Linked DNA regions of Homo sapiens: region 2 is linked to region 1. The links come from fine-mapping of genetic effects on gene expression. A gene starts in region 1. The other region holds a variant in brackets. All regions are shown on one strand. Distances are from middle to middle. Region 1 holds the start of NFRKB (nuclear factor related to kappaB binding protein). Region 2 overlaps LOC124902793 (a long non-coding RNA gene).

Evidence for each region. PIP is the estimated chance that this variant, and not a neighbour inherited with it, causes the effect.
Region 2: its variant is fine-mapped to the expression of NFRKB in whole blood (TOPMed, PIP above 0.99).

Annotation. Positions count from the first base shown.
Region 1 is chr11:129,893,510-129,898,739 of GRCh38, forward strand. It overlaps NFRKB (nuclear factor related to kappaB binding protein), which reads right to left and starts at 2,069. Exons shown (of 27, transcript NM_001143835.2): 1 at 1,987-2,069; 2 at 850-929. RefSeq lists a silencer at 1,786-2,225.
Region 2 is chr11:129,796,108-129,801,337 of GRCh38, forward strand. The region is part of intron 1 of LOC124902793 (a long non-coding RNA gene); the gene reads right to left. Among named protein-coding and RNA genes, the nearest start is that of TMEM45B, 17 kb to the right of the region's middle. The variant C/A (reference allele first, on the strand shown) is at 3,163.

The DNA of each region.
Region 1 (5,230 bases):
TGATCACGCTACTGCACTCCAGCCTGGGCAACAGAGACCCTGTCTCAAAAAAAAAAAAAAAGGAAAGGAAAAAGAGAAAGAATATTGTTTGTTGTTCTTTCACAAAAGAAAATTTGCTGAAAATCAACATACACTAGTAAAATGCAAATGCTAACAGTCACTTTATGAGGGCCTATTAAAAGCCAGGCCTTTCACATATCTCATTTAATTCCTACAACTGTGCAAAGTAAGGTCATGGGTTATTACATCGGAATTAAAACTGAAAATCAGAGTAGGTCAGTAACTTGCCCAACCCCAGAGGCAGTACTGAAACTCAGGTCTACCTGCCTGCAAACCCATGTGCTTAATGCTACACACAATACCTCTTGTATAACCTCGCAACATTTAAATAATAAAAACGAACCTTACTGATATGACTTTATTAGTCCATATAAATTCCTGAGGTTCCACACACCTGACCATAACCACCAGTAAAGTCAATGGCCAATCTGCCTTTAGTTGGTCCATTTGATCCGTATAATCATGTAAATTAATGCTACTTTTCTCCTTCGTGTAATAACAGAACACTGCTGATCACCTTCAGAAAACTACATACCACAACATTTTCAGACTGATGGCTGGGATTAGGGGTCAAGTTGATAGCACAGGACTGCACAATGCTAACAGGACCACAGGGAGCTTAAACTCAATCACTCTACCAACATTTACTAAATCCATCCTTTCCAGCTCCTATTCCTACAAAGTGGGCTAAAAAGCATACTAAAATGAAAAGAAAAAAGGATGTTAACAGTCAAAACACCAGAATTCCATATTCCACATTCCACAAACACCACATTCCACAAATCTTACCACGCCAGGTGTCAATTTCCTTATTTGAGGAAGGGAAGCTGGACCAGGTCCTCCCTCCCGTTATTTCCAATTCTGGAATCCTGCAATGAATAATCTCTAGATGAGTGACAGTGTGAATTACGTAATACAGGTACTTTTCTTTTCCAAAATTCTCCAATGATAAAGAACAGTTCTAGAATAACTATATGTAAAATGAAGCATGTTCCACTAAATTATTTCAAGCTCCCTTGAAGAGATTTCAGATCCATGTAAAGATATAGCAGAAACTTAAGCGTTGAGTCAAGTCACGTGGGTGGTCCCCAAGCAACTGTGCCCCCTCATCACCCTTCAGCACATGGTGAAATGACATCCTCATCATGCCTATGCCTAAATAAGTGAAGCGGGTGAGACAGCACATAGCATGTGAGTTTAACAAAACTTCAAAATAGCACCAAAAAAAAATTGCAGAAGCAACCTGATGCTCAGAATAAAACCTTCTTAACAGAACTGGCATAGAACAGACTATCAACTGCAAAGTCAGTGTCCTACCTGCCTCTTAGGAGGTCTCTATACAACTTGCTCACAAGTTTCTTCAGTGACGGTGCGTGTCTAGCTAAAGTTAATCTAGTCCACTGACAACCTTTGCACTGCCACTATTCTGAACAGAATCTCAAAATACCAAAACCAGGCAGCTGCCAGGGAGTTGGACCCCGGAAGCCAAGGATTTCCAGATCTTCGGGCGTTCTGAACCTCTTCACTAGACCACGAAGGCCTCTCGGCCTCTCATCACTGGCTTTCAGCACCTGGTCTAACTTTCCCCGCTGGACCCTCCCCAACGCAGAAGCTAAACCCTCGGGTCCTTCCAGAGCAACCGCCGGCTCCAAAGCCCTCAACTCTGCAGCAAATTCCCCTCCGGTGCCAGCCCGGCTGGCCCAAGGCCCGGGTCCAATCCTCAGAACTGCACGGCTCGGCCCCGCCCCTCCCCCACGCCGTGCCTAACCCTAACCCCCAGCCTCACGCGTCGCACCGCTCCCCACGCCCCGCTCCCGCTCCCCACGCCCACACGGGCAGCGACCTCGCGGACCCAGCCGCCCGCTCCCGCTCCCTCCACTCCCAGGAGACACTTCAACCCTTTCGCCGCCCCTTGCCCGCCCTCACCTGAACCGCGGGCGCCGGCCCCCTAACCCGCAGCCCTTCTCCGGCCGCGGGCTCCCAGACGCACTCGCTCCCGCAAGGAGTCTGGGTGCGCGCACGCTCTGGGCCTGCGCGGCGGAAGGGGCGGGGCAGCGCGGGGCGGGGCCTGGAGGGTGCCGGGGCGGGGCCACAGCGGGCGGGTCCTGGAGCGGCTCGGGAGAGCGGAGGGTCGGCGAGGGTGCCTGCGCGCGGCTGGGCCTGGGGATGCAGGTTCCAGCCTGCTTGCGCGTCTCACCTGATTTAGGAGCTTCCAGAGGCCCCAGACAGTGCCTGTCTTTGCCTGACCGCGAATCAAAGTTCCATAGCCCGTGAGCGAAGGCACGTCTATTAGCTGACGTTTGCAGAGAGCATACCCTGCCCCAGGCCCTATGCTAAGCACTTTCTACCCACCGTCTTTGTGCTGCAGCCCTGTGAGCTATGCACTATTAGTGCCCATTTTACAGTTGAGGACATGAGTAGAACGCGACCTCAGCCTGTGCTTCCGAGTTCCTTCATTCCTCCTTCCCGTCCCCGGGCCCTCGATGTCCAGAAAGAATGTAAACACATCGAAGGATCACATTTTAAAGTTAAACTCCATCATTTTCCTCTTCTTAGATATGAAGGCCCCTTTCCTGTTATTCACTGGGTTTTGCTTAGTACGGCTTCACACTACTTATTCCAGGTACTCCCAGCAGTGGCGCAGAGACCATCCTCAGTTCTGTGTGTGGATGGGACCAGAGAAGCCGGCCGGCCGAGCTAATGTTCTTCCCTTCCTGGAAGAGAGTAGTTTCCAAACAACCCGATCTCTGTTCCTCTACTGGCTCCACATATGCTCTAAGTTCCTGTTACACTGTTGAGAGGCTCTTGAATTAGAAACTATCGAGTATAAATGGCAGTGGAATATCACTCTATAGTTGTCACCGATATTTCCCTTACCTTGAGATTGTGACAAGACCAGAAAGAGAAAAAGAGTAAAAACAATGTAAACTATAATTTTTGATAGACTTTGTTTTTTTAAAGTGGTTTAAAGTTAACAAAATTGAGCAGAAAGATATTTTCCAAATACTCCCCGCCCCACCTCCCCACATGCATCGCCTTCCCTTTATCAACATCCTCTACCAGAGTGGTACATTTCTTAGAACTGATGAACCCGGCCCGGCCTGGTGGCTCACGCCTGTAATCCCAACACTTTGGGAGGCCGAGGCGGGCGGATCCCGAGATCAGGAGATCGAGACCATCCTGGCCAACATGGTGAAACCGCGTCTCTACTAAAAATACAAAAATTCGCCGGTCGTGGTGGCGGGCACCTGTAGTCCCAGCTACTCGGGAGCTGAGGCAGGAGAATTGCTTGAACCGGGGAGGCGGAGGTTGCAGTGAGCCGAGATTGAGCCATTGCACTCCAGCCTGTCGACAGAGCGAGACAGAGCGAGACTCCATCTCAAACAAAAGAACTGATGAACCTACATTGATACATCATTACCCACCATCACAGTATAATGCAGAGTAATTTCACTGTCTTAAAAATCATCTGTGCTCTGCATATTCATCTCTCCCTCTCCTCTACCCCTGGCAACCGCTGATCTTTTTGTCTCCATAGTTTTGCCTTTTTCCAGAGTGTCATCTAGTTGGAATTACATAGTATGTAGCCGTTTCAGATTGGCTTCCTTCCCGTAGTAACAGGCATTGAAGTTTCCTCCATGTCTTTTCATGGCTTGATAGCTCCTATTTCTTTTTAGTGCTGAATAATATTCCATTGTGTCGATATATCACAGTTTTATCTATTCGCTTACTGAAAGATATCTTCATTGTTTCCAGGTTTTGGCAATTATGAATCAAGCAATTATGAATCAAACAACCCAGAAATCCAACCACCCACTCCAGGCATCTTTGCATGAACGTATCAAAAACACCTCAGTCCCAATGCCCAGGATCTTCCCCTTTGAGAGGCTGAGATGGGTGGATCACTTGAGCCCAGGAATTGGAGACCAGCCTGGGCAATATGGTGAAACCCCATCTCTACTAAAATAAATACAAAAAATTAGCCAGGTGTGGTGGCACGTGCCTGTAGTCCCAGCTACTCAGGAGACTGAGGTGGGAGAATCGCTTGAGCCAGGGAGATCGAAGCTGCCGTGAGCTGTGATTGCACCACTGCACTCCAGCCTGGGCAACAGAGTGAAACCCTGTCTCAAAAAAGTAAAAAGAAAAATAAAACAACAAAGAATAAGTAAGACTTTTCCTTTACCTTCATTATTAAAGGTAATAATGATGTTCTTTCTTTATATAGATCTGAGGTTCTGACTTTTATCATTTTTCTTCTCTCTGAAAAACTTAACATTCTCTCCAAGGCAGGTCTACTGGCAACAAATCCCCTTTGCTTTTGGGGGATAATTTCATGGGCTACAGCATTCTAGGTTAGACACTGCTTTTTTCTCTCAACACCTTAAACATTTCATTCCACTCGCTCCTTGTGTGCACAGTTTCTGAAGAAAAGTCATTTTTTGTTCATTTGTTTTTTGGTTTTGAAGGATTTTTTTGCATTTATCCTGTGTGTCCTCTGAGCTTCCCGGATCTGTGGTTTCATCTTCCATATTGATTTGGGGAAATAATCAATCATTATTGCTTCAAATATTTCTTCTGTTCCTTTCTCTGTCTTCTGCTAGTATTCCCATGAGGCATAGTTATACCTTTTTTTCATCATCTCACAGTTTTTGGATATTGTTTGTCTTTCAGTTATAGAGGTTTCTATTGAGATATCCTTAAGCTCAGCAATTCTTTCCTAAGATGTGTCTAGTCTACCATTTAGCCTCTCACAGCTACTCTTCATGTTTTTTTTTTTTTTTTTTTTTTTTTTGAGGTGGAGTCTTGCACTGTGACCCAGGCTGGAGTGCAGAGGCGCAATCTCAGCTCTCTGCAACCTCCACCACCCAGGTTCAAGCGATTCTCCCACTTCAGCCTCCTGAGTAGCTGGGATTACAGGCACCCACCACCACGCCTGGCTAATTTTTGTATTTTTAGTAGAAGCAGGGTTACACCGTGTTGGCCAGGCTGGTCTTGAACTCCTGACCTCAAATGATCCACCCACTTCAGCCTCCCAAAGTGCTGGGTTTACAGGCATGAGCTGCCGTGCCCAGCCTACTCTTCATTTTTTATCTCTAGCATTTTAGCTCATTCTTAGGATTTCCATCTCTCTCCTTACATTGTTTGTTATTGCTTGTTGTCTACTTTCTCT
Region 2 (5,230 bases), 97 kb before region 1:
CTTACAATCATGGCAGAAGGGTGGAGGATAAATGAGCATGTCTTCGCATTGCGGCAGGAGAGAGAGAGCAAAGGGAGAAGTGCTGCACACTTTTAAACAACCAGATTTCGTGGGAACTCACTCATGATCATGGGAACAGCAGTGGGAAATCTGCCTCATGAGCCAATCACCTCCCACCAGGTCCCTCCCCCAAGACTGAGGATTACAGTTCAACATGAGATTTGGCTGGGGACACAGAGCCAAACCATATTAGCTGGAAAAAATAATAATACTTATTCTGGATGGCTAGCACCAGGATGGCCAAGGAGAGATTAGATAATGAGAAACTCTATGATAAGATCTTCCAAAATAATAGTCAATTATACTAGCAACACATAAACCACTTCCCATTGAATTAAAATGCCATCCTTGCCTTTGCTAAGTTCCACATATAATTACATTCATTTAAGAACACTAATTTTTCTTGCAATATTGGTCACTGCAAGGAAAATCTGTGTGTTTTTGCTTTGTAAGATTTGTGTGTTTTTGCTTTGCAAGCCCAGCACTAGGTTTTGGGAAATGACTGTATTGTGAAAGGAAATCAGAATTCTTTCTGAGCCTCTTTCATTGTCCCTAATATAATGACTTCCAGAAAATTGTGTATCTGGAATCAAAGAGATTTAACAGCAAGACTCCAGGTTTTCAAAATATAATCGCTTTTTAAATGCTCATGTTTTAAAATGTTCAGTTCTTTGGATTAAATGTTCAGTTCTTTGGATGAAAGATGCTATATTCCCTCGGTGTAAATGAATAAAAAGATTATAAAAAGAAACCCACTAATCTGTCCCACTATTATACTAAAACAACTTGGTAATAATTAACTGGTATTATTGTATTATTCTATAATTGATTATTAGTAATTTACCTTTTAACTACTTGATTGAAGATTAACTTGACCTGTAAAACGAACCTAAACAGTCAGACTTACTTTTTCAAAACTGGTTTGTCACCCAGGTGCAGTGGCTCACACCTATAATGCCAGCACTTAGGGAGGCCAAGGCAGAAGGATCAATTCAGTTCAGGAGTTTGAGACCATCCTGGGCAACATAGGGAGACCTCATCTCTATTTAAAAAAAAAAATTAAAATCAGGGAAAATGGAAGCTAGGAGACAGAGCTAATGTGCAGCTCCCACATGGATGGACAGAACAGCATGTGGAGACTCACACCATGATCTTTTGCTCTAAGAACCATGGCAGGAACATACCAGGAAAAGCGAAAAAATTCACAGAGCCTTTGAAAGAAGCAGCACGCCAATGCAAATTTCATGAAACAGGCAAAAAAACTGTGAGTTCCCAAAGTGTGAGAAAGGGAAAACTTACCTCTGAATACACATCCCCACTGGGGAATCCGAAAATCCAGATCACAGGAGAAGAATTTAACCTTACCTAGAGATTAAATGGATTTAGGGATTCACACAAAGTAGAAAAGTAGAAGTAGCATTGGGAAGTGCCTTGGATGTACTCCAAGTCTCCAGCTCAACCCCAGGGAAGCCATCCCTGAGTATATCTTACAGAGGCCCTCAAGGAAGGCAGCCAGTGGAATTGGGGAAGGGCCACAGGGTGAAGAAACCTCCCAAGTGAAATTGGTAGTGGTTTCAACTGGGCACAAATTTTCTTGAGTGGAGTCCAGGTGATGAGTGGGAGGTGTTGTGGATACAAGGTGCTGCCAATGAAGTAGGCAGATGGAGAGAGGCGAGGTCTGAAAGCCGTGCTTGCTTTCTCAGTGGGGTAAGCTCACAGCCTGGGGCAAGGTCTGAATGGTCCACTGCAGAAGAGAGGCTGGCCTGACCAATGGTGTGGGAGCTGGGTCAGGCCTCTTGCTACCAGCTATCTCCTACTACCCTGGCAAACTATATGATACAGTGGAGGTAGCCAAAATCCTCTTGGGAACATAACCCCATTGGCCTGAGAACTATCCTCCATCACTCACAGTGGCTGCAGCAAGCCCCACCCAAGGAGAATCTGAGCCTAGACCCTCTTAACTCTGCCCCAACCTGATGGTATTTTCCTACTTGCCCTGGTAGTTGAACACAAAACTCAGAAACTCTTGGGAGCTTTATGGCCCTGCCAATCACCTGAGTATCCAAAATACTTACCCTGACCATCTTAGGGCAAGCTTAGAGCCCCCTACGACTACTGCAGCTGGTGCTCTCTTGAAAGCACCATCTCCTGGCTAGAGGCCAACCAACTCAGGCCACCACAGTAACTCATGACAGAATAACCCTGATCCCAGGAAGGAAAAGACAACACCTAATTCCACTTCCTGAAACATCCTGGCTAACCAAAGGTCCTGTGTGTGTTCATGTGACAACTTTACCACTAGTGTAACCAGCATTACAGAAAGCCAGCACACTAAACATATCTACAACCAAGGACTTTCATAGAGTCTACCTCACTCCCCTGCCACCTCCACCAGAGAAGGTGCTGCGATCCAAGGATGGGAGACCTGAAGAAAGACCACATCACAGAACTCTGCAGACATTCCCCAGCACCAGCACATAGCCTGGTAGCTCCACTGGGTGGCTAGGCCTAGAAGAGCAGTAAGAATCACTATAGTCCAGCTCTTAGGAAGCCCCAGTCCTAGGGGAAAGGGAAGAGCACCACATCTAAGGATCACACCATGGGATAAGAGAATCTGAACAGCAGGCCTTGAGTTTCAGATTTCTTCACTGAAATAGTCTACCCAAATGAGAAAAGAACAGAAAAGCAATTCTGGTAATATGACAAAACAGGGCTCTATAATACCCCCAATGATCACACCAGCTCCCCAGCAATGGATGCAAGCCAAGAAGAAATCTCTGAATTGCCAGATAAAGAACTCAGAAGGGTGATTATTAAGCTACTCAAGGAAATGCCAGAGAAAGGTGAAAACCAACTTAAAGAAATTTAAAAAGCAATACAGGATATGAATGAAAAATTCTCCAGAGAAATGATGTCACAATGAAAAAAATCACTTCTGGAAATGAAAGATACACTTAAAGAAACACAAAATGCATTGGAAAGGTCAACAATAGACTAGAGCAAGTAGAAGAAAGAACTTCAGACCTCAAAGACAAGGCTTCTGAATTAACCCAATCAGACGAAGACAAAGAAAAAAAGAAGTTAAAAATGAACAAACCCTCC[C/A]AACAGCTAAACCTAAGAATAACTGATGTTCCTGAGGAAGAAGTGAAATCTAAAAATCTGGAAAACTTGTTTGAGGGAATAATTGAGAAAACTTCCCTGGTCTTGCTAGAGATCTAGGCATCCAAATACAAGAAGCTCAAGGAACACCTGGGAAATTCATCACAAAAAGATCATCACCTAAGCACATAATCATCAGGTTGTCTAAAGTCAAGAATGTTAAGGAAAGGATCTTACGAGCTGTGAGGCAAAAGTATTAGGTAGCCTGTGTAGGAAAACTTTTCAGACTTCTCAGCAGAAACCTGATAAGCCAGAAGGTACTGGGGACCCATCTTTAGCCTCCTGAAACAAAATAATTTTCAGCCAAGAATTTTGTATTCAGTAAAACTAAGCTTCATAAATGAAGGAAAGATAAAGTCTTTTTTCAGACAAACAAATGCTGACAGAATTTGTCACCACTAAACCAGCACTACAAGAAATGCTTAAATGAGCTCTAAATCTTAAAACAAAAGCTCAAAATACACCAAAATATTAATAGAACCTCCTTAAATCATAAATCTCACAGGGCCTATAAAACAATAATACAGTGGGGAAAAAAACAAGGTATTAAGGCAACAACTAATACGATGAATAGAACATCAGTACCTCACATCTCAATACTAACATTGAATGTAAATGGCCCAAATGCTCCACTTAGAAGATACAGAATGGCAGAATGGATAAAAATACACCAACCAACTATCTGCTGCCTTCAAGAGACTCACCTAACACATAAAAACTCACATAAACTTAAGGTAAAGGGATGGAAAAAGACGTTTTACATCAATGGAATCCAAAAGGGAGCAGGAGTAGCTATTCTTGTATCAGACAAAACAGACTTTAAAGTAACAACAGTTTAAAAAGACAAAGAAGGACATTATATAATGATAAAAGGCCTTGTCCAACAGGAAAATACCACAATCCTAACTATATATGCATCTAACACTGGAGCTCCCAAATTTATAAAACAATTACTACTAGACCTAAAAAACAAGACAGACAGCAACACAATAATAGTGGGGGACTTCAGTACTCCACTGACAACACTAGACAGGTCGTCAAGACCAAAAGTCAACAAAGAAACAATGGACTTAAGTCCATTTGCACCAAGGTATAGTTTAACAGATATTTACAGAACATTCTATCCAACAACTGCAGAATATACATTCTTTTCTTCAGCACATGGAACATTCTCCAAGATAGACCATATAATAGGTCACAAAACAAGTCTCAGTAAGTTTTTAAAAATCAAAATTATATCAAGTATCCTCTCAGACCACAGTGGAATAAAACTGAAAACTCCAAAAAGAACCCTCAAAAGTATAAAAAATACATGTAAATTAAATAATCTGCTCTTGAATTATCTTTGGGTCAACAGTAAAATCAAGATGGAAATTTAAAAATTATTTGAGCTGAATAATAGTGACACAACTTTTCAAAACCTCTGGGATACAGCAAAAGTGTTGCTAAGAGAAAAGTTCAGAGCATTAAACACCTACATCAAAAAGGATGAAAGAATGCAAATAGACAATCTAAGGTCACACTTCAAAGAACTAGAGAAACAAGAACAAACAAAAAAAAACTCAGCAGAAGAAAAGAAATAACAAAGATGGGAGAACTAAATGAAATTTAAACTAAAAAAAATAAATGGAACAAAAAGCTGGTTCTTTGAAAAGAGAAACAAAACTGCTAGAACATGAGCAAGATTAACCAAGAAAATAAGAGAGAAAAAATCCAAACAAGCTCAATTAGAAATAAAATGAGAGATATTACAACTGATACCACAGAAATATGAAAGACCATTTAAGGCTACTATGAACACCTTTACACACACAAACTAGAAAATCTAGTGGAGATGGATAAACTCCTGGAAATATACCACCCTCCTAGGTTAAATCAGGAAGAAATAGAACTCTGAACAGGCCAATTACAAGTAGCAAGATTGAAACACTAATTTTAAAATTGCCATACAGGCATGGTGGCTCACAACTGTAATCTCAGCACTTTGGGAGGCCGAGGCAGGTGGATCACC